Linked DNA regions of Homo sapiens: region 1 is linked to region 2. Evidence: fine-mapped expression QTL. A gene starts in region 2. The other region holds a variant in brackets. All regions are shown on one strand. Distances are from middle to middle.

Region 1 (2,913 bases), 72 kb after region 2:
CAAGTGTTTCCTTCTGTTCCTGGCACGGTGTTAGTTGGGAGTTAAGATTTTTACATGTGAAAACACAACTAATAGTCATGAAGCAGTGAAAGCTAAGGGCCAGACTGGCGGTGCAGACCATGAACAGGGCAGGAGTCAAGGCAGGAAAGATTCACTGTCATTTTGGGGAAATGAAAGGTCTTTCTTGACAACTGTGGATTTTAAGGTAATATTGTACTTATCTCTAAGTATTTTCAAGAGAAACATGAATGAGCCTGGGAGTCATGTGCAGCCCAGGGCATGTCTCCAGGCTCTTCCTTCCTTAGTTTCAAAGCAAAGCACTTTCCTCTTTCTTCATGAAATATGATTGGTATTCTTTTGTTCTCACTCTTCTGAAGCTCCCTAGCTGTGTATCATCTATGTCCCAGGCAGGACCATCCAACCACAAACCTTGGTCCTAAATCTTTCACCCCAGACTCTAGCCATTGCCCCATGTGGGTGATGAGTGAGGAGCAATCCAAGTGTGCTGGTGAGCAGGGCTTGGCCACCCTTCTAGCCCAAGAAGAGAGCACATATGGTCATAGGCGCGTCTCTGTTCCTGTAATGAGTCCAGGGTCAAGAGTTCACCTCCCATTGTGGCCAGTGATCTGGGTTCTGTATCATGGCCACAGGAATCATCCCAGTGCCAGCCAGTCGTCTTCCAAATGTCTGATGTGAGTCAAAAGAGGTGAGTGATATGGGCAATGGGCAGACAGATCCTGAACACCACTGGTAGTGATCAAATTTGTCCCCTTGTGGAGGGATGGCAATCCCCTAGTGACTAATGGTCTTGGAACTGAGCTTCCAATTACTGACTGGGTAGAAAGCACTTGGCATTGGCTCTTTAGGGACAAAGATTTGGCACTAATGACTTACTATGTGACCTTGGACAAGTGACAGCCTGAATCTGATTTTTCATCACCAAAGATAGGGATAATTACATCAATCTGCAATGTTAAGGTACTATATGAGTACAAGAAAATGTTTAATATGTTTAAAAGAAAAACAGTCCTTCAAAATGTAGCGTAATTCACTTCTCTTTTTCAAAAGAAAAATTGTCTTCCCCAGAAGCAGCATTCACTGGGAGTGCAGACTCTTTCATAGACTTTATCTAATTATTAATACATTTTCTTTTAAATTTTCTGTTATCAAACTGCCCATGCACATGGTTGAAAGTATTCATATAGTTCCCCATGGTTTATTAAGAAATGAACAGTCCCCTGCACATCACCCTGCATCACTTCTGTCCTCCAGAAGGCAACCACTTTTATCTCTAATATTTACTTCCATGTTAAATAATATGCATGCATTGCTACTTCTTGATTTTCTGGCTTCACCGTGGGCATTATTTGTTGACTCTCCACTATAGACTGTGAGGAGTTAGCTCTTTTTCTTCCTTTTTGCCCTCTGCATGCAAACACATTCTTCTCATCACCCTGTTCTCCCATTGTAATTTCAAACAGATTGATGGTCAGTGTTCTTGTTGTAATCATGCAAGCCTAACTCCAAGCTTGGTCATTCATAGGCTATGATTAGTTTTCCTTTGCCATT[C/AATTTTC]TTTGGAGGCAATTCCTTTAATAATTGCCTTTTTTGCTTAGTTTTATTATTACTAGTATGATCCAAAACTAATCACTAATTACCTCAAACTCCTCTCAGAATGTCCAGATTTGTCAGATGTCCTTTTTTGCATATTTGCGAAGACGTCTGTTCTGGAGCTTTCTAATATATTCTAATCCAAGTGGTGCTGAAGCTATCAACCTAAGACTTATTTCTCTTCTCTTATACACTGACTCTCCTGTTCATGTTGTTTATAATCTTTCTTGTTGGTTATAATCGTCCTCCTCTTCTTCCTCCTCCTCCTCTTCCTTCCTTTCCTCCTCGTCCTTCTCTCACATCATCCAGCAGCTTTCTGAGAAAGTATGATGGCAAGTAAATATATTATGGTCTTGCATGTCTAAAAATGCCTTCCTTGTACCCTCACACTTGATGGATAATTTGGATAGGTATCATATCATTTTTTTATGGAAGCCTCAGAAAGTTAAATGGTAAAATGGTTTGCCTAATTAGGGTAGAGATGCAACTTTAATATATTTTTCCTTCCACTTCCTGAATTCATCATGACTTTACAAGAAGGTGCACTTTGAAGCTCCCCAGAAGCATTCATATGGGCAAACAGCAGAGCTAATGAGTTTGCTCGGTGAAGGCAAGAGAAGGGACAGTGCTTGGTAGACCAGCCTTGATTCAAGCCAGATTCAGTAAAAGCAGGGAATAAAGGTTATTTTCTTTTCTCCTTCCTCTCTGTTAATGCCATGAGACAGCTTCACCTGATTTGACAGATGATGTAGCTGACTGGAGGAAATTTCATCTGCACAAAATAGAGGAGTCCCTATGCAGATAATTATCTCTCTGGAAAACACTGACAATTATCGCAATTAACAAATCACAGGCTTGGATACATGGACCAGAGGCTTGGATACATGGCGGACTCATCCTTTTCACTAAGCAGTCTTATCATTGATCAGGAGTGTCAATTGCTGACCAATGATGTGTATGAGACCATCCTGATTCCTATATTTCTAGCTGTCTGGTTAAACACAGATGCCTTATAACTCTGCAAGTTATCAGGTGGGGCTATGAAGAACAATTTGAATATGAGAAGGGTATTGCATACTTCTGGTATTGTCACACTACAGGTTCTTAACAGGACATTCTGAAATGCAGACTCTTTTGTCTCTATATGAACTGATTTTGGAAGTTTCATGTCTGTTGGTTGGCTCCAAATCCATGCCTGCTAAGGGAAGCAATAAAACCAGGGAGAATCTTGGAGAATTTTAAATTTCCTTCGTTTTTTCGTTTTTTTGTTCTATGTATGCCTAGATTTAGCTTTAATAATCTGTCAGC
Region 2 (2,913 bases):
CAAGGAGCTTGGTCAAGCAAAGGGATGACTAGAAGAAGACACAGGACTTTTTTTTAAAGCTTTTCTTTCTTTTTTTTTTAACGGATAAGAGAAGACTGACCAAGTATTTAGCTTGAGAGAAAGGAGTTGATAGAGATCAGTTGAAGATTCAGTAGAGAGTGGAATGATAGAGAAAAATCATGGGCTAGAAAGGGAGACCTCTCCCTTTCTAGTCTGTGATCAAAGACCCTGTCGTGAGGAGGCACCTGCAAGTAAGAAAGGTCTTGGTAGGGATGCTAGTTGGAGACAGTGGTGTTGGGGGAGCTGGATGAAGGAGGTGATATACTTCAAAAGACAGTAGGGAAGACTTCTAATAGTTGCTGAGAAGGATTGATAACAACTAATAAAAAGACTATGGGACAGACCTGAGGGTGAGTTGGGATTGGAGATCATGAATGTGCACTGGCACCAAAACACCCTCCATACTTATCTATCAAAGGCTACACAATATATCTTCAAAACTAAATATCCAGCCGAGCATGGTGGCTGATGCCTGTAATCGTAACACTTTGGGAGGCCGAGTTGGGCAGATCACTTGAGCCCAGGAGTTCCAGACCAGCCTGGGCAAAATGGTGAAAACCCGTCTCTACAAAAAAAAAAAAAAAAAAAAAAATTAGCTAGGCGTGGTGATGGACACCTGTGGTCCCAGCTACTCGGGAGGCTGAGGTGGGAGGATTGCTTGAGCCCAGGAGGTCGAGGCTGCAGTGAATTGTGATCGTGCCTCTGCACTCCAGCCCCGGCAACAGAGTGAGGCCCTGTCTCAAAAAAAAAAAAAAAAAAAAAGTAAATCTCCTTTAGCAGTGTATGCCAGCAGTTTCATTTTATGTGCTAATTGTGTTCTTCCTTCACCCCTTCTTTTCTTCCTTATCTCTTCTCTGCTCTCCAACATGCGCGAATTTTCCCTCTTTGTTACTCTATCATATTGGCTTATTACGGAAAAAGAAAACCAGCTAAGTGAATTTATTCTTTCACAGCCCTCCTGTGAGGAGGCTTACTGGGTTCACAGTAGAGTGAGGCTTCAGGACAGTGTCTCCCAAGGGCTTTCTTTTATTTTGCGGGGTCTGATCTGGCTCCAAAATTCTCCAAGTCTTCAAACTTTGTGTTATTAGGTGTCTACTCAGTCAAGAATGAATTTCAGAAGTTGAGTATATAAGAAAATGCGACATGCTGCCTTTGCGGTGGTTAAACAAGTGTTTGTCATAATCGTGAATAGTTGGGGAGACTTTTCATTTTAGAACTCTACTCAGTCAATAGGTGCATTATGAAAACTGGATACATTGCATCACTGTGAAGGGCTTCAGTCTGCGGTTTGCAAAAGCAGAATAAATTTTCTTGGGGTTGTACCGTTATGTACACACACACACACACACACACACACACACACACACACTCACAGGCTCATTGGCAGACAGGGCCACAACTCGCGGCTCTAGGGAAGGCCACAGACCTCAGCTGTACGAGCGGAACCTGGACTAGAGGAACTTTCCTCAGGACTCAGGGCACACAGCCCCTCGGCCACTACTGTCTGCGAGCCCGAGGCGCAGGGGAGCGCCAGCGGCTGCAGGTACGCTGCGCACCCGCACTGGGGCCTGGGCGGTGCAGCGGCGGCGGGAGGGTCCTGGGAACCGCAGCCGCCGAGGCCAGTGTGTGAGCCGGCCGGCCGCGGCAAGCCGCATCCCCCGGCCGCCCCTCGCAGCCCCTTGCTCCCCGGCAGCCGCCGCCGCCCTCAGGCAGCCCAGCCGGGCGCTCGCGCCAGGACTTCCCCGCCGCCCGCCTCGGCCCGGAACATGGCTGCGCGCCCTGCTGCCACCCTCGCCTGGTCGCTACTGCTCCTCTCCTCAGCCCTGCTCCGCGAAGGCTGCCGAGCGCGCTTCGTCGCCGAGCGGGACTCGGAGGACGACGGAGAGGAGCCGGTGGTTTTCCCGGAGTCGCCCCTGCAGAGCCCCACGGTGCTCGTGGCGGTCCTCGCCCGCAACGCGGCGCACACGCTGCCGCACTTCCTCGGCTGCCTGGAGCGGCTGGACTACCCCAAGAGCAGGATGGCCATCTGGTGAGCGCGCACGGGCCCCGGGCCGCCGCGGCGGGACGCGGGGGCGGCCTGCCCAGCGCGGACAGCGCCCGGAGCAGCAGCTGCAGGGCGAGGGAGCCGCTGGAGGGGCGGGGGGGCACGCGGAAAATCTGGCGCACACACCCCCTCGCTGCCCGCGCCGGTGGCTGGCGGATCGGGCGGTCAGGCTGCGGAGGGACGCGCGGGTCAGTGTGCGCAGAGGGTGCTGATGGGGAGAACCGGACCGCTGGAGCTCTGGAGGGTAGCCTGCGAATTGGGGCTTTGTCCCACAAGGGGCATGGGGGACACCCCTCAAGGGGACTTTCAGTTCCCTCGCTTTTAACTCTCGAGGTTTCCTCTTTCCCCACCTCATACTGCTAGCCCTGACGTGAGGGGATAGGGTGCCTGTCGCCGTATTCCCATGTAGATACGACAGATGGAACGTAACTGCGGTTGGCCAGGGGCTCCGCAGTGGCTGGGGCGCCGCAGTGCGCTGCTCTGACTTTCCGGTGCCGGGCTCCTGCTCCAGGCTGGAAATGTGCTCCTAGCTCTCCTAGGGGGACCTGGACCTAGGGGTGGAGATTGGGCGGAGCCCGCGGAGTGTGCCCAACCATGGCACCACCGTGGGCCTGGTCTCCTGCGAGCGCTCCGGGCTGTCCCTGCCGGTGCATCGGGGTTCCACGTCCCGGGGAGAGACGAAGATGCCCTGGGAAAGATAAACAGCCAAGTTTTGTCCCCGGAGGAAAGAAGCTTGGACCTGGTCCCTGTGTCTGCTGCGGGGAGGGCCAGGGGATAAGTGCGGGTGCCTGCCCGCCCCACCTTGTAGA

Evidence for each region. PIP is the estimated chance that this variant, and not a neighbour inherited with it, causes the effect.
Region 1: its variant is the best candidate, but not a certain one, in a credible set for the expression of COLGALT2 in T cells (TOPMed, PIP 0.74).

Annotation. Positions count from the first base shown.
Region 1 is chr1:183,964,447-183,967,359 of GRCh38, reverse strand. The region is part of intron 5 of COLGALT2 (collagen beta(1-O)galactosyltransferase 2); the gene reads left to right. Among named protein-coding and RNA genes, the nearest start is that of COLGALT2, 72 kb to the left of the region's middle. The variant C/AATTTTC (reference allele first, on the strand shown) is at 1,570.
Region 2 is chr1:184,036,271-184,039,183 of GRCh38, reverse strand. It overlaps COLGALT2 (collagen beta(1-O)galactosyltransferase 2), which reads left to right and starts at 1,456. Exons shown (of 12, transcript NM_015101.4): 1 at 1,456-2,089. The coding sequence starts at 1,827. RefSeq lists a silencer at 1,644-1,733.